Linked DNA regions of Homo sapiens. The protein of the gene in region 7 purifies or fractionates together with the protein of the main gene of each other region. This does not show direct contact. Each region holds a gene or a part of one and is shown on either strand. Other genes may lie near its edges. The genes, in order: ACAA2, NUDT3, RAB27A, ACP3, CREG1, PM20D1 and PCP4.

Region 1 (3,500 bases), on a different chromosome or scaffold from region 7:
CCTTCTGTTCCTGGGCCTGAATATTTGCCCTAAAGTACAAAGAATGCTCCTGTGGTAGGATTGTCATTTTTCCTCGGGGCTTGAACAGAGCTGTACATTCCAGATGTCCCACAGTATCAGCTGCCCCCTTCATCTAGAAGTTTGGCTGTCACTTGTATATAGTGATGGGATTAAACAAAGTAACTCGTTGAAGCATCCCAGATGAATAAGTGGGGAGAATAAGTTATTAAGTATCTAGTGGGAACTGGTTTGTTAATCTAACTTACAAGAATAGTGGTTCTCAGTTCCATGATTACCTAATGACTAGCAATCCTTAGCCCTGCAGAATAGCTGCAGACCAAAAAAAAACGGGGAAAGCCATGACTTGAAAAGAATAGTACTGGTTCTGAGGAAATACACAGCTATAGAAAGACAGCACTCCCTGGAACTCCTCAGGGGTGGCAATGGTAGAGGTTGGTGGGTGGAACTTTGAGCCTCTTCAGCTGGAGCAGTCTGGCATTATCTATTACTTGGCATCATATGCAAAAAGAATTCTGATGCTTAAAGAGAAAAAGGTGGAAAACCCATTCAGAGTGCTATTGATGAGTAGCTTGTTGCCCAGAGAGATGCACAAAGTCGCACAGCTATTAGTGACAGGAACCAGGACTAGAAATAAGGTCTCCTTTTCCTAACAAGAATACTAAACCTTCCTGAAGTCCCAGTAAATAACAGTGGTCTGGGAAGAGTCCTTTAAAAATCGAGTTATGGCCTAGCATATTGTTACGGTGGATTCTGAGTTAAAGTGAAAGTACGAGTCATGCTTGCTGTGTTGTTTATGCAGACAAGGAAGTGTGTACAGTGGTCTGAACATTGTCCACCTTTTATGTGTCTGTCACCACTGTTGGCTACTTCATCCCCTCACCAGGCTGGATAACTGATGCTTTACTACTGACTACCCATCTCATTTTCATGATTTCATGCTTTAGACATACAAAGAGAATCTGGAATCAGATCCTGTAGTAAATCAGTAGCTGTAGTAAATCAGTAGCCACATGAAACTGGCATTTTAAATTGAAGTGCATTAACTGGATAGTCCTAATCAATAAGCACGTGGTTTGTTGTCCAAAGAGTATTTTAACTACGTGACAAAATAAATATTATATTTAGGTTTCATTATGCCTTTCTTGTAAAGACTGATTTTCCATTTTATAAGGTAAAATGCTTGTGAAACTTGATGCAGAATATTTGACTACTTGAATTCAGCAGAACATACTACATATTTTTCTTTGTAGACATTTTTGGCAGTTTCATTCTTTAAGAACAAGTCGAGAAGTAGATAATCTTCTCTACCCAAATTTTTTACCTTTTGAGAAAAAATATGGATTTAAATTATGAGCAATATTAAACTCTCATTACATCATCAGAAATCTGGGAGCTAAAGTTTATTTCAGAAGTCTTATTAGATGGAGTTGCATTTCTTAAATTAGGAGTTATGTTTTATTTAAATTTCCTGCCTACCCTTGGAGTTGTAAACATCACCTTACTTCATAAAACCTTCCCTGAAGTGCCTCGTAGTTTCCCATCTCTCTGTGCCCATGTGGAGATACTGCTATTTCTTGTCTTTTATCCAAATGGGCCTGAAAATTCAGAGTGTAGCCACAGTAACTTCTGTGCTGTGAATGCATATGGCTTGGATCCCAAGTAGAGCACTCAGTCTGCCTTGCTCTTTGATATCAATTATAATCTATTAACATAACTAAAATCCCATATATGGACTCCTTTGGCTGTTTTCAATCTTAAAGCCGTTTATGGTAGAACTTTTCATGTAATTCTCTTATCTGCAGTTTGAATGTATAAACAACTTTTCACCTTGGTTCCATTTTATTTTTATTATTATTTTTTTTCTTTTTTAGAGATGGGGTCTTGCTGTGTTGCCCAGGAGGCTAAAGTGATCCTCCCACTTCAGCCTCCCAAAGTACTGAGATTACAGGCATGAGCCACCATGCCTGGGCCCTTTTTCTGCCTCTTTATGGTCACTTCATTTAATAGGTACGGTCAAGGTAGTAAGATTTGTGGCTACTAATAACTGCCGCATTATTTCTTCCTTACTTGGAAAGAAGGAGAAGCTTGATACGTAAATATAAGATGACATTTATTTCTATATTTTTATAGAAGATTTTTATTATTATATAGGTCCTGTCCCTGCTATCAGTGGGGCACTGAAGAAAGCAGGACTGAGTCTTAAGGACATGGATTTGGTAGAGGTAAGTGTTTTTTTTTTTTTTTTTTTTTTTAACAACATGAATAAACCATGTACTTTTATAGCATAAATGACTTTAATTTGGTCTCATTGCTCTTTGAATTTCATTGTAGTTAGCCTTTCCAAATGATGTACATCTAAATAAATAGTACCTTCATTAGATGCCTTGTGTTGATACTTTTCCCCACCTGGTTAACATGCTTTATTTATATTTGAATATTCAAACTGCCTGATTTCTCTTACTCAAGTATAAATTCCTGGGAATTTCTTACTACTTTATAAAACTGTTACATTTTAGACTATTAACATGCCTGTTGAATATTAAAGTGAAAAAATATATGTAAAATAATTGACATAATAGAAAAGCAATATTTAGTGCCAAATCTACAAGTTTCTTGCCCTTCTCGCCAGATAGAGCCCCCTCCCTTAAATGTATCTTTGGCTTTTATACGATAGTTGTAGCTTGATTTGGGATGCACCTATCATAATTTTTGACACTGGAACTTAAATTTATTGAGTGATTTCTTTTTAAATGTTAGTATTAGAACTAAAGTGTCTTAAGCATAATTAAAAGAAGAGGTGGAGAAACATTTAAAGATGGTTATATACATTCCACACTTTTGGAATATTTATTTGAAAATTTTAGGTGATTAAGCATGTGATGCCTGGCATTGGGAAATAACTAATAGAACAAAGGAAATCTATTTAACTTGATAGCGAAGGGGTAGGCACAGGTGTGATTTCCTCTATGATAATCTCTCACACAGGAAACCATGATTTCAGACAAATGGTTTATCTTTAAATCTCTTCCACTTTTAGCAGATCACAGTTCAGAGCCTCAAAGAGGCTGTTTAATTTATTATATTTGTGTCAGCAAATAGGTACCACTAAATTTCTCACTTTAGACCTCACATTTAAAACTATTAAACTATATCAACTTTGGGAAGTTGTTCATAATCATTTGGAAATGTATACATTCTCAAGGACATAACTCAGACCATAGTTTTCCTAGGTTCAAAAGCCTAGTTTCACTACCTATTCTAGGTCTCTTAGTACCTCCTTGAAGATGGCTCTGTATATAGAGTAGAAAGATAATGGTGGATCTAAGCACATATGAGGCACCATCTTGAGAGACCACAAAGTATAGTAGGAAAGAGCACAAGACTGAATTTTATCCCAACTCTGCAAAAGTTACCTTTCTTAGAATGAGTTTCCTTATCTATAAAATTCCTGAATTAAGATCATATGATAATACAGTACT
Region 2 (2,746 bases), on a different chromosome or scaffold from region 7:
CAAGAGGCTTGTGTCCTCCCAAGAACATGAGGGAGTTCAGAAGGGAGCTATAGCTCACAGACAGAAACCTGCCCGCTCACCCCATCCCTCGTGACTGGGAGCATGTTTGCTCAGAATTTTCTAAGAGGACTCTCCCTTCAAAAATCCAATTTGCTCCCAGAATGTTGTTTAGCCTCTGAGAATCTCACTCTTTCATTTCCATCTGTGAATGGACATAGATGTGTTGCTCAGGGATCAGAAACATCAGAGTCCAGGGCCCAGTGGCATGGTGTTGCATTAGTAGTTAGAAAAGTAATTGGTCAGCTCTACTGTAAAAGAAATAAGTATGTAGTACAGTTTTGTAAATGTCAGGTCTGTTCTATTGTTTTGTGATCTGAAGACTGTCAAACTGGTTGATAATCAAAGAAAAGGTTGGTGGTTAGAATAAGTAAAATTTCAGTTAGAAAGATATAGCTTACCAGTTTTCCATGTGCTTAAGGAAGTCAAGAATATTTCAGGTTGTTGAGAACTGTTGTAAAATGGAATTGAAGCTAGTGTCTCTCACCTTCTTAGGTGTATCAGAGAGAGGAAGTGGAAGGCCAGTAGTAGCATCTTCATACTTACTTTTGCCAGCCCAGCCTCCATTTCAAAGACTTTGTCTTCCATCCTATCCAATGACATGGTCAGGGATGGGCTCTGAGGAGGCAGTGAGGCCCCACCTTGGTTTGCTCCACTGTGGTGTGTAGTCTCCAAACAGCTTAAGGGTTTTTAAGTTTTCTCACGATTACCTCCACTCCACTCATCTACTATCAGCATCAGAAAGGTTAACATCCCTGGGACCATTCTACTTATAAAAGAGATGAACTAGTGTGCTTTCTCCCCTTTTCCAGGTGTGCCATCCATATACAATCTCCTCTTGGCCAAGTTCAACAAATGTTTCCAGGGAACCCCGTGGGTTGAGGCAAAGTAGCCAAGATGTATTGAGTTAAGTTTTTCTAGAGGACAAAAGTATTTCTTGTCCCTTTTCCCTCATGCTCATATGTTTTAGCTGAGGCGTAAATGGCCAAGTTGAGTAATATCTGTGGAACTGAGACAGAGAGCCAGGGACCCATGTACCCAGGGACCAGTCCCCTGGGGAATCACACAGTGGCTCAGACTAGACTGCTCTATCCCACCAGAACTCTGCTGCTGTTCATTTCCATCAGGACCACCCAGGAAAGCAAATAAGTTAGCCTTCTCATCATTAGGTCACCTAATCTCTTGGGTTGCAGGATGAGAGCATATATAGATCTCCTGTTTAGAGAGTGTGTTCATAATTGTAGAAAGGGATAGAAAATGGAATAACCAAGAGGCTGTGTCATTTTTTAAGAGGATGGCAAGGATGACCTCAAATGAGCTCAACAAAACTGGGAATCCAAGGAATGGTGCTTGTAGGGAAAGAGAGGTCAGTTGTGGTCCTTAAACCTCTTGGCACCTTGTGCGGGTTATAAAACAAGGAGCTGGAGTAAAATTGCCCTTACCCCCAATCCAAATGCTGTCCAGGATTTAGGAGCTACCCAACCTGTGGTTATATGGTGTTGGTTTCCATTTTTTGTTTGTTTGCTTGTTTCCAAAATAGCCTTGCTTGGTACTGCATGGAAAGTTCAAGCTTTTCTTCTTGCCCGCTCAGGGCTGGCCTCTTCCCCGTGTCTTCACAGCGTCCCTAAGGAAGATTTTTGCAGCACTCTCTGGAGCTGAGGGGAGTGAAATTTGGTCCAGAGAAGGCGGAAGGAAATAGTTTTCCTGTTTCCTTTTCTCGAGGTGGATGTCCTCAGGCTTCCTTCACACCTCCTTCTCATGGGTGCGGCTGGCAGTACAGTCAGGCTGTGGAGGAGGGCTGAGAAGAAAGGGGCACTGGTCCAGCCCCAGGTTTGGTCTGAGACAGGTACACAGCAGATACCATCCCACCTTCCTCTCTAAAGAACAGGCCAGCCACACATATAACCCTTTCCCTACTTTACTAATGTATCCCTTATGTGGTACCAGCAATGGAGGACAGGCAGACTTACCCCCTGCCATCTAGAGAGAATGTTGTTATTACCCGTAAAACTTGACCACCCCCATATCCCACTCCTTTTTGTAAAAACAAATGCTTAAACCTGTGAGCCTGCCGTTCCTTTCTATGTGTTAATCAGTTTCCTTCCATTTGAGCTGTGTGGGAGGGAAGGGCATTGAAATTGTAGGTTGTAATCTTGTGCCAACCAATAAAAACCAGTATTTCACACACATCCCTTTTAGTGTCTGGTCTCTTCTTTCCAGAGGCTTCCCTTGAGTCCTTCATGTCAGCCTTTTGGTTTCCCCCACTCCTCTGCTAGATTCTTGGGAATTGCCCTAGAGGTCAAGGGTGACCCCATGGAAGATTTGGTGTGCAGGGCATTCAGGTGAGAAACGCAGTGGAGAAAGCCAGAGGCTATTAAAATCAGCATGTTGTTGTATCTTGCCGTCCTTGCTACCAGGTGCCGAGACAGAGCCCTGGTTAGACGGTCAGTGCCCACTGCTGAGGAGAGGGCCTGTACCCCTTAGCCAGGGAGGCTTTCTAGGGGACCCAAAGGAGTTGGAAGGGGTAAGAGGTGAGCCACATCCAGAATAAGGAAGCATCACAAGAAGTTGCTTTCTTCTGTGTGGGGTGGAATCAGGAAGGGCGGAGCCATTTTTGAAGCTGTGAGTGGTAGGGCTTGCAGGCCGAGAATGGGTGGGCATCATCAGTGGGAGAGCAGCATTAAGTGAG
Region 3 (3,500 bases), on a different chromosome or scaffold from region 7:
GGAGTGGGGAATGCCAGTAGTGAATGTGATGTTCTGCAGAATGTTGAAGGGAGAAACTTTTATTTATTTATTTTTTAAGGACTTTGAGACTGAAAGTTATTCTAGTGTTGGAGGGGAAGGCAGAAGGTCATGGTGTCACAGTTGCAGATGAGGAAAGATGGCTTTCTCCTTAGACTACATTTCTTGTTGAAAAATCCATTGTTGGCCTGAAGCAGGTAAACCAGTTGTCAGGAAATTAATGACAAAGGTCCTTTAATGGATCATATTCTGTCAGGGGGAAAGGTCCCTGGCTTTTAAGACAGAAGAACATTCCCTTTTGCCCATTCTAGTATTTTATTCTACTACCAGAGAGGCTTATAGAGATTAAGACCCACTGAATAACAGTAGGGCCCTAATGAAATTTTTAGTATTGACGTGTAGTTGATAGAATCTACATATATGTATGTGATTATTTTTGTTGGTTACTTATTGTATAACTTAAAAAATAGATTTGTTGAGATATAATTCACAAAAAAAGGAAATCCATCCATCTAAAGTATAAAATTCGGTGGTTTTTAATATATTCGGAGTTGTGTGGCCATCACAGCCATTCAATTTTAGAATAGTTTCATCACTTTAAAAAGAAACCTCATACCTATTAGCAGGCATTCCTCTTTCTACCTCCCCTTAGCCACCATGAATTTTCTATCAATGGCTTCTGCACACACCATATAAATGGAATAATATATGGCCTTTTGTGTCTGGCTTCTTACATTCAGCCTGATGTTTTCAAGGATCTTCCATGTTGTAGCATGTATCAGGACTTCATTACTTATTATAGCTACATAATATTCTATTGTATTGATACACCATTTTGTTTATCCATTTGTCTGTTGATAGATACTGTTGTTTCTTTTTCTATTTTCTAGTGCATCATTTTAATTCCCTTTTTTGTTATATGTTTTTGAGTTCTTTTTTAAAAATTCCCTTGGGGATTACAATTATCTTAATTTTTCACAATCTAATTTTGATTAATAGCAACTTAATTTTAATACTGTGTAAAACTTTGCTCTTATGTGGCTCTGTTTTCTCCCATATTTTTGTGCCATTATTGCTATACGAATGACATCTTTCTACATTGTGTGCCATCATCAATACAGCTTTACAATTATTGCTGTATGCAGTTAATTTTTTTTTCTTTTTTCTTTTTGAGACAGGGTCTCTCTCTGTTGCTCAGACTGGAGTGCAGTGGTGAGATCTCAGCTCACCGCAACCTCTGTCTCCCAGGTTCAAGTGATTCTCCTGCCTCAGTCTCCCAAGTAGCTAGGATTACAGGCACCCGCCACCACACCCGGCTAATTGTTTATATTTTTAGTAGTAATGGGGTTTTGCCATGTTGGCCAGGCTGGTCTCGAACTCCTGGCCTCAAGTGATCCACCCATCTTAGCCTCCCAAAGTGCTGAGGGATTACAGGCATGAGCTATCACTCCCAGCCTGCAGTTAAATTTTAATCTAGTGGAGGAAAAGGGCTACAAAGAAAAACCACGTTTATACTGTTTTTTATATTTACTATGCAGTTACATTTTTACTGGTGCTTATTATTTCTTTGTGTGGATTTAAGTTACTGTCTAGTTTCCTTTCAGCTTAGTCTTGAGAGTTGTCTGTAGTATTTCTTGTAGGATAGGTCTGCTAGAGATGACTTTTCTCAGTTTTGTCTTAATTTATCCTTTAATTTTAGAGGACCGCTATGTTACTGATTTTTAAGTTCTTTGAATATATTTATAATTCCTGATGTAAAGTCTTTGTCTAATAAGTTTAACATCTGGGCCTCCTCAGGAATAATTTCTATTCGTTGTTTTTTTCCTGCGCATGAGCCATACTTTCCTGTTTCTTTGTGTGTCTTATACGTTTTGCTGAAAACTGGACATTTAAAATAATGTGTCTATTCTAGAAACTCAGATTCTTTCCCCTACCTGGGTTTCTTGTTTTTACTGCATATTTATTTATTTTTGTCGTTGCTGTTTGTTTAATTATGTTTCTGGGATAATTCTGCAAAATCTGTATTCTTTGTATGCAGCTACTGAAGTCTCTGCTCAGTCAACTTAGTGGACAGCTAATGAGTGGAGAGAGTTTATTAAATTCCTTGAACTAATAAGTCTCTTAGCTTTTTCTGAGAGTCTCTGTGTGTTTGTTGGGGTATGTGTTTAATACTACTGCAGGCAGTTTACAACTCTGCCTTAGCTTTTATTTTCTGCCTGAGAAGAACCTCAAAGTCAGTCAGAAGTGAGAGATTAGGACCTTTTTAGATCTTTCCTGGGCATTTGTAGAGCCCTGCCCATGAACATGGCCTTTTAGGTTCCAAGGAATATTTGGGAGCATTATAGAAATCTCATTTCCTATTTTTTTCTTTAAATTTTTTTTTTGTTGTTGTTGTTAGACTTTTGTTAGCCCTAACTGGTATTGCTACCTCTGGTAGCTGTGATGTTAAATAATTACTGCTGATAGTTTTCAACAAATGCCCTTGGGATAGGGCTGTTCTCAAAGAGCAAGCTTTGAGTGAGGTCAAAGAAAGACAAAGCTGGGGCATGGAGCTTTCCAAGGGGCTTCCTGACAATTTTTCTCAGTATGGGACTTTTAGGGAGCTCCAAACCTGTTGTTCCTCTGCTGTCCACAGTGGTGGCTAGGCTGATGTTTTCACAACAACCACATTTGTGCACATGGTTTTTAAGTCTTCTAAAAGCTTGAGTGAGGGGGATGGGAATAGGGCAAGGTAAAAAACACCTCAAAGCTTACTGTTTTTACTGATATTCGGCTGTTTTTCTTGAATAAATGCTCCTTGGAATGTTGCAAGTCTTTGTTAATTCCTAGAGTACTGAAAAAGTTGATTTGGACAATTTTTACCACTGTTTTTGTTGCTATTGTGGAGGAAGAAATTTTTGATGGTCCGTTCTCTGCTGTTCTAGGAGTGTTGTCTATAAAATTCTTTTAAGAGCACTTTTAAAATTTGGGATGGGACAAGGGAAAATTGTTCTACCAAAAATACATCTGCACTCAAATGTTTATTGCAGCACTATTCACAATAGCAAAGTCATGGAACTAACCCTAGGTGCTTATCAGTGGTGGATTGGATAGAGAAAATGTGGTACATATACATCATAGAATACTATGCAGCCATAAAAAAGTGAAATTATGTCTTTTGCAGCAACATGGATAGAGCTGGGGACCATTATCCTCAGTGAATTAATGCAGAAACAGAAAATCAAATGCCACATGCATTCTCACTTATAAGTGGGAACTAAACAATGGGTACGCATGGACATAAAGACAGAAACAGTAGACACTAGGGACTCCAAAAGGGGGAAGGGAGTGGGAGAGGGGCTGAAAAACTACTTATTGGGTACTACATTCACTGTTTGGGTGATGAATTCAATAGATGCTCAAACCCCAGCATTATGCAATCTATCTACGTAACAAGCCTGCACATGTACCCCCTGGTTAAACAAACAAAAAAGATGAGATTG
Region 4 (3,500 bases), on a different chromosome or scaffold from region 7:
ATCAGAGATTCCAGCTCATTAGTTCCTGAGTGGGGCCCTGACATCTGCATTTTAACAAGTCTCCCAAGTGATTCAGATGCATGTAGTAGAGCACCATGCTTTGGAAATGCAGCATTCAAGTTTGTCTTTAATCCAGAGCCTTACTAGAGCTTTGGGAGCCAGAGAGGAGGTTGTTACGGTGGCTGCTGCTTGGTCCCACTTGTCATTTGCTTGTCACACTTGTCATTTGCTTGACCACCACTATAATCACTTCCCATCTACGATAGGGACAAGGTGGGAAAGGAATAATATACCGTGACCTGAGTAGCGGAGAAGCAGGTACTTTAGGTCTAATTGTGTTCTTACAGCTGACTTTTTAAATAGTCGTCTGTATGAAGCAGTGATTTTCACACTTTAGCATGCACAGAATCACCTGGAGGACTCAATAAAACACAGACTTCTGGGCTTTAATTCCAAAGTTTATGGTTCACTGGGTATTGCGTGAAGAATTTACATTACTGAGAAGTTCCCACGTGATGGTGATGCTGCTGGTCCAGGGACCACACTTTAAAAACCACTGATCTAGACAGCCATCATCTTATGATTATGCAGATTAAAAATACCTAGACAAGGCAGATTAAAAGTACCTAGACACTGATCTAGACAGCCATCATCTTATGATTATGTAGATTTAAAGTACCTAGACAAGGCTGGGTGTGGTGGCTCAGGCCTGAAATTCTAGCACTTTGGGAGGCCAAGGCGGGTGGATTGCCTGAGCTCAGGAGTTTGAGACCAGCCTTGGCAACATGGCGAAACCCCATCTCTACTAAAAATATAAAAAATTAGCCAGGCGTGGTGGTGCTCTCCTGTAGTTCCAGCTACTTGGGAGGCTGAGGCACGAGAATTGCTTGAATCTGGGAGGCAGAGGCTGCAGTGAGCTGAGATCGAGCCACTGCACTCCAGCCTGCGGGGACAGAGTGAGACTCCATCTCAAAAAAAAAAAAAAAAAAAAAAGTACCTAGACAAGGGTAGGAATCTGAGCCCTAGAACCTTGTCACTTCAAATGTGGTCCATGTACCAGTGCCATTGTCATCCTTGGGAGTATGTTAGACATGCAGAATCGCAGGTCCCACATCAGACCTGCTGAATTAGAATCTACATTTTGACAAGATTCCCAAGTGATTCATTTGCACATGGAAGCTTGAGAAATACTGCCCTAATAGAATCTGATGGGTAATCAAGGTTCTTCAGAAGAAGAACTCAGATCCTGCAGCCTAGAAGAATCTTTTGGTCTTAATGGGAAAACATAGCAACAGAACAGGAGTCTATACAGAGCCATAGGTATTAACAAGCAAATCTGAATTTTTGTAGCCTCTCTTTCATTCAAAGGGACAGAAGATGGGTAGGCTATGGTGAGAAGAGCTTTGACCTGGGAGACAGAAGATGCTGGTCTCAAATAGCCTGCCTGAGTTTTCTCCTCTATGAAATATAGTCAGGGCAGAAATTCTCAGCCTCGGCTACACATTAGAGTGAACTGATCACCAAGGAGCTTCTAAAAATCCCAATGCCCAGGACACATACTAGACCAATTAAATAAGAACCTCCCAGGCAGACATCAATATATTTTTTAAACCTCTCCAGATAATCCCAATGTTTTGGCAGGATTAAGACCCATTAGTTTTTGAGACATTCTACTCTAAAGATTCTGTGACATTTTCTTAATTAATATATTTAAACAGATCAGGACAGAAGCAATTCACCTGGCCTTGTGGCTCCAAACAGAAGAGTCATCCAATCTTACAAGCAAAGGGAATAGGGCTTTGGAACAGTGACTAAAGATGGCTTTGCTCCCCAGTTCACCTTCTCCTTAGATGCTCTTCAGAAAGTAGGGCTCCCTGTGTTTAACTGACCACTTATAAGGAAGGTCAAATCCCAATATATCCAGCTGACAAGAAATCATATTCTGATATCAGCACTTTGGGGAATCATGTTTCCCAATGCTGTTGATTCAGCTTATTGATTACAAGACTATTTTTCACTTTCTCATGTGAAGCCTAAGAAATTCAAATCCTGGCTTATGATTACCACTTGGCTCTCTTCAGCATTTCTAAGCTCATATAGTCTTTGTTCATGTACATCTCTTACATTTAAATAAAGCCAGAAGGGCAAAAAATATCAAAACAGACAATTCTATATACATTTCCCCTTGAGACTCATCAAGAATCTTTTTTTTTTTTTTTTTTTTTTTGAGATAGAGTTTTACTCTTGTTGCCCAGGCTGGAGTGCAATGGTGCGATCTTGGCTCACTGCAACCTCCACTTCCCAGGTTCAAGCGATTCTCCTACCTCAGACTCCCGAGTAGCTGGGATTACAGGTGCCCACCACCAATCCTGGCTAATTTTTGTATTTTTAGTAGAGAGAGGGTTTCACCACGTTGGCCAGGCTGGTCTCGAACTCCTGACCTCAGTTGATCCGCCTGCCTCGGCCTCCCAAAGTGCTGGGATTACAGGCGTGAGCCACCACACCCAGCTTCATCAACAATCTTTAGCTAAAAGTCCAACCAACCTGGGTGAGTTGGCCAAATCCTTGTGGCCATGAGGATTCCTTTATGGGGTCAGTGGGAAAGGTGTCAATGGGACTTCGGTCTCCATGCCGAAACACCTGAAAGTAGATGTGAGAGAGTGATGTTACAAACGTCACTTGGGTGTTTTGCTTCTGCTCATTATAATAGTTTTTTTTTTTCTAACTCATTGGTTTTAACTTTGGCTTCCCATTGTAATCACGTAAGGAGTTTTAAAAGATTCTGAGGACTGGCTTTCAACCTTAGTGATTTTTATTTAATTAGTCTGGGATGTGGCCAGGACATCAGGATTTAAAAAATCTCCCTGGGTAAATCTCTAGTTAAGAACCACTATTCTAAGTTCACTAACACTTTCACTGTGTTTCAGGTAATGTAAGAATCAAGATGATCAGCCATTAGAAGGCAGGTGACACATAATGGAGATCGGTTTGTACATAAGATAGGACAGAAAGGAACACAAAGCTGACAAGAGTACTTTACTGCAGACAAACTCTGATGAGAAGTATTCTTCCCTTAATGATTACAGTAATAGTGGTATAACTTTTTTTTTTTTGAAACAGTGTCTTGCTCTGTTGCCCAGGCTGGAGTGCAGTGGCGAATCCCAGGTTCAAGCAATTCTCCTGCCTCAGCCGCCTGAGTAGCTGGGACTACAGGCGCTTGCCACCACGCCCAGCTAATTTTTTTATTTTTAGTAGAGATGGAGTTTCACCATGTTGGCCAGGCTGGTCTTGAACTCCTGACCTCAGGTGGTCCACTTGCCTCGGCCTTCCAAAGTGCTGGGATTACAGGTGTGAGCCACCGTGCCCAACTAGTATAACTTTTTTTTTTTTTTCGAGACTGAGTCTTGCTCTGTCATCTAGGCTGGAGTGCAATGGCACCATCTTGGCTCGCTGTAGCCTCTGCCTCCCAGGTTCAAGTGATTCTCATGCCTCAGCCTCCC
Region 5 (3,940 bases), on a different chromosome or scaffold from region 7:
ATTTACCCTGATATGACTATTATGCATTGTATGCCTGTAGCAAAATATCTCATGTACCCCATAAATGTATACACCTACTATGTACCCACAAAAATTAAAAATTTTAAAATAAGTAAATAAAAAGTTTTTTAAAGGTCTTGAACTTTCGGGCTTCTGCCTAACTTTACTACTAGTGTAAGTGGGCCCCTTGAGATTTCAGCACCCCAGCATTTGTTAGTGACTGAAATAATGAAAATTCTGATCAGGCCCTTGCTTGCACATGTTGACAACTCTCTTTTTGCCCAATATCCCTTGTTCCTACAACATAATCATAAACTGCTGATGTACTGTTTCTTTATCAAGCAGGAGGAGATAATAACTTCAGGGTTACGAAAAAGTTTGCAGGAGGAATAAGTCCTTTGAAGTACTTTGAGGCCAGCTTCTGTCGCCCAGAAGTCTGATTGTTCAAGGAATTATCTGAGACTGAAGAAACACAGACTTTTTCCCTCGATTCCCTGAAACTCCCCCTCCCTGACTCGCTGGCCGCATAAACACTCTCTGCTTCTTCTTTTTGTTAGGGCGGATTTGAGAGATCTTGCCCTCCCGCCTTCTCGCTTTGGCCAAATCGAATAAACTTTTATCTCCAAGCACCTATATGTCAGTGTTTGGCATCAGCTACACATGGGGTACACGAGCCTGAGTCTGGGCTTCTACAACGCTGGGACCCTCGCTGTTCTTTGGAGCTGATGGTAAATTCAACAGAAAAGAGGCGCATGGGTAGAAAATGCAGCATTTCCTCTCAGATGCCAGATATTCATCTCCAAAGGTATTAAAAGGAGGGGGTGTGTGCCTGTGTAAAGAGGCTGGTCTTTTCCTAGCAGTACGATTTGGGCAAGTTGCTTGATTTCTTCAAGCCTTTCTTTTTCCGCCTGTCAAACAAAACAAAACAAATATCCCGTTTAGGACAAATTCACAATCCTTAAAGAGGGCAGGCAGAGCGATTGGAATGCAGATGAACCAATCCCTTCTCCTGCAGGTTGCGGAGCTGCAGAGGGACCCCGCCCCCTGCATTGTGCTTAGCTCTGATTGGCGCCTCGCGGAGGGGGCGGGGCCTGGGCGCGCCGAGCTCCGGCTGGGTCCCTGCAGGTCTTGGGGCCCGGGACTCTTCCTGGAGACACCGCCATGGCCGGGCTATCCCGCGGGTCCGCGCGCGCACTGCTCGCCGCCCTGCTGGCGTCGACGCTGTTGGCGCTGCTCGTGTCGCCCGCGCGGGGTCGCGGCGGCCGGGACCACGGGGACTGGGACGAGGCCTCCCGGCTGCCGCCGCTACCACCCCGCGAGGACGCGGCGCGCGTGGCCCGCTTCGTGACGCACGTCTCCGACTGGGGCGCTCTGGCCACCATCTCCACGCTGGAGGCGGTGCGCGGCCGGCCCTTCGCCGACGTCCTCTCGCTCAGCGACGGGCCCCCGGGCGCGGGCAGCGGCGTGCCCTATTTCTACCTGAGCCCGCTGCAGCTCTCCGTGAGCAACCTGCAGGTGAGCTGGGGCCCGCGGCTTCCCCAGGCGGGCTGTGGGCGGGGCGGCCACAGAGCGAGCCTTCACTCTCCCCAGAATTCTTCCCGGGAAGTGGAGCGTGGCTCGAACGGCTGTTGCTTCTCTGCCGCGCAGGCAGGTAGGTGGGCGTTGCAGCGTCCCAGATGTTGGGCAGCTGGGTACCAGGAATTTCCCACAAGCCTCCGCCACTGGGCCACGCACCTGGGGTAAATTCTCTGCCAGCAGCCCGAGGACTTCTCATCCGTGAGTGGTTCTCAGTCGTCTTGGGGCCCAGTGTCTCTATTAACTGTGCTCCTATTCTCTTTTTTTTTTTTTTTCCCTTTGAGACAGAATCTCACTTTGTGGCCCAGGCTGGAGTGCAGTGGCGCTATCTCAGCTTACTGCAACCTCTGCCTCCCAGGTTCAAGCGATTCTCGTGCCTCAGCCTACCGAGTAGCTGGGATTACAGGTGCGTGCCACCACACCCGGCTAATTTTTGTATTTTTAGTAGAGGCGGGGTTTCACCATGTTGGCCAGGCTGGTCTCAAACTCCTGACCTCACGTGATCCACCCATCTCAGCCTCCCAAAGTGCTGGGATTACAGGCGTGAACCACCGCGCCCTGCCTGGGCTCCTATTCTTAAAGGTTTTACAGGGCATAGAGATTGTTAGGTACTTAAGCACTTTAATATGTGACTTCAGGGTTTCTCACTCTCTTACCCTTCCTGAATTAAGCTTTTCCCTCCTGCAGCAAGACGCTAACGTACAATATCATGGACGATTACAATGATTACTGCAGTCTTTAGGCCTCCACAGGCATAGTGGCTCCTCAGTAAGATGCAGAGCTGATTGAAGGTGTATCTCTTCCTCGCCCTTTGCCCACCTTCTGGTGCAGGGCCACACTTACAACTCTGATGGATCTCTGCTGTCTCAGGGATGGGGTCACAGACACCCAGCTTGGGAGGCCGGAGACACACAGAGTCCAGGAATGGAGCCTGATTTGATGGAGGGTCTTTTTGACAAAGCTCTCACATTTGAGTTCAACTCTGAAAGTACAACATTGTTGATAAAGACAGGATGCAAGAAACTGATGCTTGATTAATCACTTTTCCATTTGCCTTCCATTCGTTGTCTCTTCTATTAATTCTTTGAAGTAGGTATTATATACCCCATTCTGCAGATGAAGAACTTGAGGCCTACCTAGGTTAAGTAACTTGTTTAAAGCCAGCGGGCAAACCCCTAGTTTCATCTCAGGTTCATCTTTCTTCAAACCACCTATCACAGGCTGGTGGCCCATCAGCTGAATATGTCCCACAGACCGGTTTGGCCTACACAAAGTTCTGTTTTGTTTTTAATAAATTTGAATTTGTTACCAACATTTTAAAATTTAGATTTTACTTTAAAATGTAAATCTCTAACTTTTCTTGAAAAATGGGAAGATCCAGTGACACTGTGGGCCTGCACTCTTTGAGCAAAAACAGAAGCAGTGCCCTCTTTTAGCTAAGGCAGATACACCCCAGTTCACCATTTTCTTATTCCCAGCCCATTCCACACCTTTAGGCGTTTGCTCAAAACAAACTCACTCCACTCCATCAGTGGTGCTCAACTTTGACTGCAAATCATAGTCACCTAAGAAGGCTTTAAAAATGGGATGCCAAGGTATTTTATTGAAAGCACATTTTATTTTAAGACAACACCCCTTCCCGCCTCCCCACAAACCACTCCCTGATGATTCTAATGGGGGAGGAGGGAGATTGACCAATACATAATCATATTTAAATTTGTGAGGTGACTAGGGAGTTGCTGGTATTATTGTCCCCATTTAGGAAGTGAGGAAACACAGACTCAGAGGTGCAGGGACTTACCCTGTGACCAGTCAGCTAATGGCTGTCAGGTAGGACATTAGCCCAGGTCTTTCATGTTTCTAGAAATAGACAGGGCAGTGGCAAGGAACCTACCCAGGGCTTTAGGTTTCCATGATGGCAGTGAAAAGAAGTGGCCACATTAGAATTTGTCTGACTTGATTCCATCAATTAGCAGGTCAAAGTTTCTGCTTTTTTCTTTTCCTCCTCCTGACCTCCAGGGTGCTCTGCATTTCTTCTCATTGACAGGGGGTGAAATCGTTCAGAAGGAACAAAAAGACCTAGGTTTGGGACCATTTCTCATGTGTAAAATACCTGTCCTCTGTAACTTAGAGATATGTTGTGAGCTTCAAACGTACTTACCACTGGGCTGTTTCTTTTGTATGTCTCTTTCTTTGTGGCATTTTTGTATAGTAAATGTCTGTAGGACAGTGTTGCTGATGTTAGCTTATAGTGGGACCGTGTTTGGCTGCAGAGCCAGTGAGTCTGAAGGGAAATCTTGGGGTTTGATTATTTGCACCAAGACCTCTTACTATTAGCCTCCCTTCCATTTTGGCATTCTTTTCT
Region 6 (3,977 bases), on a different chromosome or scaffold from region 7:
AGGTCGGGAGTTCGAGACCAGCCTGACCAACATGGAGAAACCCCATCTCTACTAAAAATACAAAATTAGCCAGGCATGGTGGTGCATGCCTGTAATCCCAGCTACTTGGGAGGCTGAGGCCAGAGAATTGCTTGAAACTGGGAGGCGGAGGTTGCGGTGAGCCGAGATCGCCCCATTGCACTCCAGCCTGGGCACCGAGAGAGAAAAAAAAAGAAAAGAAAAGAAAAGTAACTACATGGCTGAATTTTTTTTTTTAAGCAAATCTTAAATGAAATGCAAACACCAGGACTGTGAACCTGTAGCTTTGGTCACAGGTAGCAATATGGCCTTACTGGTTGTATAGCACTTACTGAATTTTTCTTGAGAATTCTAAAATTTGAGAGTGATGCCAGATAAAATTGCATCAAGAAATCTGAAAGGAACGATTTATTCTGGCTTCAGGAAATCTGATTTTATATTTCTGTGACATAAGACAGGTTTTCTTTTTTCCAGAATGATCCTCTACTCTGAATAACCATAAAATTTCACTTGTGGAATACATCAAAATTATTTATACATCAAAATTCTCTTAAATATTTTATAGTAATCTTTCTAAAAATCCTTCAGTCTTACTGTACTTGTCTAGAGTTGCAAAAATGTAGTGTTAACATTAATATTAAAAGCACTTTCAATGAAATTTCTAAACAGGAGCCAACCCTCTGAGCTGGTATTTCAAAGCAGTATCTATAAACAGAGCAATTTGTTCCAATTTCAGATGAAATCAAGCTGGGAACCTAGAGAGCTCCCCCGCCCCAGGATCTAGGGAATTGTAGTCAGGTTCTAAGCTTCGGAAAAAACGAGCAGCAGAGTATGGTCTGATAAGCTTCGTGCATTTTATTTTGCTTTTCCTCCTTTATTTGATTTGTTGTCATACAGGAAAGGATTTATGGGTGAGAGATCAAGTGCGGACCAGACATGACTCTAGCCTGGAGCCCGACCTCACCTCTGCTCTGCAGGAACTGCTGGCCTCAGCACGAAAACCCACAACCCTCGAAAGGCCTTAAGGATCCTGGGCGGGGTCATTCTGTCAATTGGTTGTTCCGCTGTCCTAGCGAAGCGATGATTGGTCAGATCTGGATATGGGGTGTGGCTAAGGCTGTTTGCCGGAATAAGAGCAGAGCTAGGGCCAAGAAACGCTAGTCTGGGCGTTTAGGTCAGAACTACCCCGGTAGCCTGACAGCAGGAGCTCGAGAGAAGCATGGCTCAGCGGTGCGTTTGCGTGCTGGCCCTGGTGGCTATGCTGCTCCTAGTTTTCCCTACCGTCTCCAGATCGATGGGCCCGAGGAGCGGGGAGCATCAAAGGGCGTCGCGAATCCCTTCTCAGTTCAGCAAAGAGGAACGCGTCGCGATGAAAGAGGCGCTGAAAGGTGAACCCGGGTCCCCTTCACCCACCTATGCTCATATGTGGGTCCCTCCCTCCCCAGGTCAACCCGTGACTCCCCGCTTCCGCCGCAAAGCATCTGCTACTGCAGCTGGAGCCCCGACACGCACCCCAGCCCGGCCCCAACACCCTTCCCAGCACATCGTGCCCCTGTCTGGGGACGCCACACTTCCCCCATACCTGGCTCCTGGAACTCTGGTGTGCCCTGCCTAACCTGGAAGCTCCAACTTCACCCCTCTTGGCGTGACCACCGTCCATTCTTTCCCCTGCTTGCCTCGAGTATTACACCAGCTTTCATTTGTACATCAATTTTAACCTTTGAAAGTTTGCATGCCTGATAAATTACTGCGGTGTCGTAAAATAAGACAAATGATATTAGTCTTATCTACAAAGGAGAGAAATTGAGGCTTAGGTCAGCTAAATGATCTTCCCCAGGGCCCCACAGCAAAGAGTGGGCAGTGGGTGACAGCATCTAGTGCCTGTCGGACTCGCTGGGATCAGATGGCTCTAAAGAAAGGGAGTGGAGTGTTCCCGGGGTGTGGGATGTTCCTAATTCTCAATCATAATTGAAGAACATGTCTCCTCTAGATCTCTAATCCAGACCAAAAATTCATCCCTGTTCTGAATCTGCATTTTCCAGGAAACAGGAAAGTTTCTGTTGAGTGCTAGATCCTATGGGATGAAATCCTTCTTTACCATTCAGCTTAGCTCCAGTCTTTTCCCTTTCATTAAGTAATGGATTAAGAGAGACTGCCTGCATAAACATATAGAAGCAGATGCAGGGACCAAAAGCTAACCCCAATAGTTGGATATAGATTGTTCATATGCTAGAGTGACAAGCCTGGGAGGCAGAGCAGGGCTTTCCCAAAGCATAAATAATTCTCTAAAAGGCATTAGACAGCCACTCACAGTCTGCACAGAAGAGAACAAAAGCTACATAAGCTAGAATAGGGACCTCATAGCAACACAGCTTGGAACTCTGAGCAGGGGACAGAACACCTGAGATCAGATCCTTGGGTCTGCCCTTGAGTAGGCACTTGAATCTTTCTGAACCTCGGCTTCCCCATCTATCTGGTGGGCTATGCTATTGTAGGGTTGATCCTTAGCAAAACTGATGAAGTTTGTCTTTCAGAGACCCTTCCTGCCTCAGGTGAATTTGTTTGCACTGTGTTCTTGGAGAGCAGTCTAATTCAATATTCTCATGATTCATGCTTTCCCTCCCAGTGGTTTTGTCTTTGATCATGGAACTCTTTAAAACTGTAAAGTCTTAAAGACTCAAAGGGATGAGCCCAGTGAAGGTTCAGGAACTGAGACAACTGAGTAAGGAGGGTGAGATTATTTTAGGACTGAGGAGTTTGTTTGGAGGCTTCTAAATCCACCCCTTCCCAGGCATTATATGCCCAAAAAGCTGGTCTTGGTTGACAGACTAGTGAGACTCTGCATAAGGAATAAGCCTTTACATACAAAAACACACAAGCCTCATTGATGTAGGGACCCAGGACAGTGGGTGCCTTGAGAATGATGAAGCTTGGATTCATCAAAGCAATTGGTGATTTCAGAGGTAGTGAGGCCTTAGGAAGCAATTTATAGTAGCTTCCCTTCAAGACCAGGATCCAAAAATCCACTTCCCTCCAATCTTAGACTGTATTTGCCTTTAAGAACCATATCAGCCTAAACAAACCCAGAAGACATAGGTTTAAATCTATAGTCTGCCTGTTGCTCAGACAGCTCACCTAACCTCTCCAAGCATTTTCCCTCATCTTCGAATTAGAGGAAACAATAGCGCCTACCTCACATTAGTGTTTTGCCCTCTGCAATATGATAATGAAGGCAAAAGAACTTTTTGTGCACAGAGGACTGTAGAAAAAAACAATGACTAATTCATTTTCAATCTTTCATCTCTATTTGACTCTGACAGGTGCCATCCAGATTCCAACAGTGACTTTTAGCTCTGAGAAGTCCAATACTACAGCCCTGGCTGAGTTCGGAAAATACATTCATAAAGGTCAGCTGCAAATCAGGGGCAAGGGGTGGGTGGTAGAAATAGCAATGGAGACACAGTTCTTTTACAAAGTGATAAAGAAGTTTATTTTGCGACTGATCAGAGGACAATCTAATTCCCATAGGCAGAGTAGAGACTGTAGATTTGCTCTTGGAAAAACTAAGCCACCATATGTAGGGCAAAGATTGAGAGTTCATCCAGCCATTGCATTAGAGTACAAACTCTCTCAAATTTTGCCCTACATGTGTGTCATTCAATAAATGTTAAATCATCAAAAAGTAGAACTAGGATTTCCTTCTACTTGTGCAACTGCCCAGAACTATGTTCCATGCTCCTCCCACCCCTACCTCCTTACACACCCAAACACACCGGTACATATACACTCCACGTACTCAGGCCTACCCCAGATTCATTACTAACACATTTCTAGGCCTCTAGGCAGTCAACAACTTTGAGCTATAACATCAGTCTTTTTCCCTCATCCCTACCACCCATTGAGTACAGAGCTGAGGAAGGATGGGTCAGAGGAAAAAAGGATTCTTGGAACTCCTCCCT
Region 7 (3,500 bases):
GATAACAATTGCTTTTTTCTTTTATTTTTTGCCTTTAGCGACAAGGTGCTGGGGCAACCAATGGAAAAGACAAGACATCTGGTGAAAATGGTAAGAGGACATGAATAGTCCAAGTTCTTTCTCTTTTGCCATCTGCAGCCCTGGGTATGCAGCAGGTGCGGATCATACATCCCATCCCAAACAGCTTACTATATGTGTCTGCGCTTCAGCTTACAGAGGATTTTAGCAATTCACAGTGAGCACTGAGGTCTGGTTTTATGAAGAAAACTGAGCTAGCTAAATGCCGTGATAAGAAGTTTCCCTTCCATAGGAGGACTCCCATTTTGGGCAACATGGTAATTACAATGCAAATCTAGTTCTCTGCTTTCTTCATTAGGGTGGGTGAGAATCATCCAAGTTGTTGTGAGGATAAAATGAGATCAAACGAGATAAGTGATTTGAAAACTGTGAAGTACACAACTTCTGAAATGATGTTTTAAAACTTGCTTCAGCCCTCCGGAGCACACACAATGCGGTGCTGGTCCACTGGAAGGTGCTGAGTCAGTGAATGTCACTGCAGCGATTCACCAGCAAATAAAAATGATAGCAGTGACAGGAACATTGCATCCTGCCTCTTCATGGGCCCATCTCAACCATGACCCTAAATTGTAGGAATGATCATCATATTTTTATGGATCAGGAAATGGAGGCTTGGCATTGGGGTGAGATTTAGCTAGAAATGGGAAGTGCATGGATCCTGAAGGAAATAGAGCCAGTTGGAACCCCAGGTCTCTAACTTTAGCAATTGACATAAGAACAAGCATAATAATAAAAAATACCCAGTGGTATGCACCAAGGGCCACAGCATAGTTCCGGTGAGGTGAGACTCTGGGTGTTCTTCCTTTCTGTTAACTCAAGATGAACTCTCCTTTTATGGAAAATGACTCTTGCTTCCAACTAGATGAAATTGATGCTAGTGTCCATCAATCAGATTGTGGATAATGCCAATCTCAAATACCATCGGTTAAAATTCCCTGGGGCCTCACAACCCCTTTGGAGCCTCTGTGGTGGGTCTGAGCTGAGCAAGACTCAAGTATGAGAATGTTGCTCTGCGTCTGCAGCCTGCCAATATGCCCACCCATTTAGGGCAGTCCTATTGGGCAGGGTGAGTGCAGTGTTCCCTGGGTAAAGGGGTCATCATATCAATAAGTAGAGAGGTGGGGGCTCCACAATGTCCTAATTGGAGCTAGGGGGCTGGGAGAAGAAGGAAACAAGGTTTTCCATGAGGCCAATGGCTCTTCCTTTGCTGCCCAGGGCTTTTCCTGTCTCCTGTGTGTGAGTTGGGGTGGGTGTGTGGGGTACTGGCAAGGAAGGCAGGAAGCAGAGGAAGGAGCAAAGGATGGGGCTTAAAAGGGAGGAGCAATATTGTAGTTGCCTATATGAGGAAGGACCCACTGCCTGCCATAGGGGAGCATAGGGCGCTGTGAGCCTCCACTGATTTTCCCAGTTCATACATTCGTAGCCATCTGTTCATGCAAGTTCCTTTCCACTGAACCTCACAACCTTAGAATTAGAGTTTTACAGTCAGAAGACTTCTCAGAGATCCTCTATTGTCGTGATTCTCAACTTTTTTTTGAGACAGAGTTTCACTCTTGTTGCCCAGGCTGGAGTGCAATGGGACAATCTCGGCTCACTGCAACGTCTGCCTCCAGGGTTCAAGTGATTCTCCTGCCTCAGCCTCTTGAGTAGCTGGGATTACAGGCACCCACCACCACGCCTGGCTAATTTTTGTATTTTTAGTAGAGACAGGATTTCACCATGTTGGCCAGGCTGGTCTCGAACTCCTGAACTCAGCTGATCCACCCGCCTCGGCCCCCCAAAGTGGTGGGATTACAGGTGTGAGCCACTGCACCCAGCCAACATTTTTGTTCTCACAACTCCTTTCCATTTTAAAGAATTCTTGAGGACCCCAAAGAACTTTTGTTTATGTTGGTGATATCTATTGATGTTTGTCATGCTGGAACCCTACTGACTCTTATAGAGATGGTACTGAAGAAAAGACCTGGAGCCAGTGAACAAGACATAGGATTTATTGAGGGGAGTTACCTATAGGGCAGTCCAGTGGCGGTGGGCTGGATAAAAGAACCACAGCTGCCTGTAACAAGCATGCAGTTTACACAGCGTTTTCACTTAGCACCCTCCCTCTAGCAACTTCTACTTGGCAATCTACATTCATTCCAAAACAAATGTCCCCAATCCCCTGTATGGCCTGCATCCCATGGGATGGGCTGGGAATTCAGATGTTCCTCATAGATAAGAATGAATCTCTATACTGGCCACTCCCAGATTCCTTAGCTCGGAACTCGACTCCAAGCACACATTCTTCTTAGACCATAGGGTCATTCTCAGGGTATGCTTAAGTTACGCTATTGATATCAGGTGTATCTGCCATACACTGTCTCCTATATTAGAAATTAAAATGGAGAAAGTTTTAAATGGTTTTTCTTATTAATTTATTAAAAATAAAATAATAAACCCACTACATGTGAATGTAAGTAACATTTTAAAAAATGAAAAGTCATTATATTTTCCAAAATGGAAAAGGATATTTAGTAAAAAGTGGCAATTTTACATTTCTGCAACTCTCTTTAAAGTCTGGTTTGACAGAGGACAGCTGGATTTTCATACTGGCTTCTGTGTTCAATCTGTTATATCATGTGATGTGTAGCCTATGGAAAATTCCACTGCTCACTTGTGAGAGTATGAGATTTAAAAGAGCAAATAATATCCTTTAAGATCAAACTCTTACCTTTTATAATAATAATATCTTTTATAAGACCAAAAATGTTTTTGATCTTTTGGGCTCCCTTAAAGGATGTAGGCACCCCCCAGGGTACCTGGTTCACACTTTGGGAACTACTGCTCAGCATGTCTCATGTCATGCCTTGAGGAGCCTGAAGACCAGGCACATGGTGACGAAGCCAGGACTAGGTCCTATGTGTTCGATGTCTCTGCCCCTTGGCTTTATCTTGACATCCTATTGGTCTTTCAAACCATGCTGACATGCTCAGTGCTTTGCACCAAAGGGAATTACCGGCTACTATAAGTGATGCCATTTTCTGCCATTCAAAGACATGGAATTTCTTTTAGCTGAAAACCAGTCCACACCAGTGGAAACTGAGTGAGGTTTTTTATGGAGGTATAAAAATTAATTAAATGGAAATATTCCTGATGCTATGAATAAGGCTTTTCATTAGATAATTCTAGATATTAAATGATAGTCACTTTTGGGTAGAAAAGTGAATTTGAGATTATTTTACAGTTACTGGATAATGGCAATGTATAAATGTAAATTATTATTAACATGCTATACTTTAATTTCAGCTAAAACTGCCTATATATGATATTTGTACGTGATACTTTATTATAATTTAAAGTCTGTGCTTTTGCCTTTAAAAAGGAGCAAAGACAAAAACTGGAACAGCCCAAGAAAGATGAGGGTAAAAACTTCTAGAAGTAAT

Evidence for each region.
Region 1: the proteins of PCP4 (region 7) and ACAA2 purify together in Homo sapiens (affinity purification with mass spectrometry; one large-scale study listed by BioGRID and IntAct). This does not show direct contact.
Region 2: the proteins of PCP4 (region 7) and NUDT3 purify together in Homo sapiens (co-immunoprecipitation; one large-scale study listed by IntAct). This does not show direct contact.
Region 3: the proteins of PCP4 (region 7) and RAB27A purify together in Homo sapiens (affinity purification with mass spectrometry; one large-scale study listed by BioGRID and IntAct). This does not show direct contact.
Region 4: the proteins of PCP4 (region 7) and ACP3 purify together in Homo sapiens (affinity purification with mass spectrometry; one large-scale study listed by BioGRID and IntAct). This does not show direct contact.
Region 5: the proteins of PCP4 (region 7) and CREG1 purify together in Homo sapiens (affinity purification with mass spectrometry; one large-scale study listed by BioGRID and IntAct). This does not show direct contact.
Region 6: the proteins of PCP4 (region 7) and PM20D1 purify together in Homo sapiens (affinity purification with mass spectrometry; one large-scale study listed by BioGRID and IntAct). This does not show direct contact.

What each region holds. Positions count from the first base shown.
Region 1 is NC_000018.10:49,786,034-49,789,533, reverse strand, and holds part of ACAA2 (3-ketoacyl-CoA thiolase, mitochondrial), read left to right. Parts: intron 1-2,172; coding exon 2,173-2,243; intron 2,244-3,500. UniProt on the Homo sapiens protein: In the production of energy from fats, this is one of the enzymes that catalyzes the last step of the mitochondrial beta-oxidation pathway, an aerobic process breaking down fatty acids into acetyl-CoA.
Region 2 is NC_000006.12:34,279,179-34,281,924, reverse strand, and holds the end of NUDT3 (diphosphoinositol polyphosphate phosphohydrolase 1), read left to right. Parts: 3' UTR 1-2,246; downstream 2,247-2,746. UniProt on the Homo sapiens protein: Cleaves a beta-phosphate from the diphosphate groups in PP-InsP5 (diphosphoinositol pentakisphosphate) and [PP]2-InsP4 (bisdiphosphoinositol tetrakisphosphate), suggesting that it may play a role in signal transduction.
Region 3 is NC_000015.10:55,230,814-55,234,313, reverse strand, and holds part of RAB27A (ras-related protein Rab-27A), read left to right. Parts: intron 1-3,500. UniProt on the Homo sapiens protein: Small GTPase which cycles between active GTP-bound and inactive GDP-bound states. In its active state, binds to a variety of effector proteins to regulate homeostasis of late endocytic pathway, including endosomal positioning, maturation and secretion.
Region 4 is NC_000003.12:132,327,407-132,330,906, reverse strand, and holds part of ACP3 (prostatic acid phosphatase isoform PAP precursor), read right to left. Parts: intron 2,641-3,500; coding exon 2,545-2,640; intron 1-2,544. UniProt on the Homo sapiens protein: A non-specific tyrosine phosphatase that dephosphorylates a diverse number of substrates under acidic conditions (pH 4-6) including alkyl, aryl, and acyl orthophosphate monoesters and phosphorylated proteins.
Region 5 is NC_000001.11:167,550,963-167,554,902, reverse strand, and holds the start of CREG1 (protein CREG1 precursor), read left to right. Parts: upstream 1-1,140; 5' UTR 1,141-1,161; coding exon 1,162-1,515; intron 1,516-3,940.
Region 6 is NC_000001.11:205,847,333-205,851,309, reverse strand, and holds the start of PM20D1 (N-fatty-acyl-amino acid synthase/hydrolase PM20D1 precursor), read left to right. Parts: upstream 1-1,177; 5' UTR 1,178-1,237; coding exon 1,238-1,406; intron 1,407-3,338; coding exon 3,339-3,425; intron 3,426-3,977. UniProt on the Homo sapiens protein: Secreted enzyme that regulates the endogenous N-fatty acyl amino acid (NAAs) tissue and circulating levels by functioning as a bidirectional NAA synthase/hydrolase.
Region 7 is NC_000021.9:39,898,438-39,901,937, forward strand, and holds part of PCP4 (calmodulin regulator protein PCP4), read left to right. Parts: intron 1-38; coding exon 39-90; intron 91-3,500. UniProt on the Homo sapiens protein: Functions as a modulator of calcium-binding by calmodulin. Thereby, regulates calmodulin activity and the different processes it controls.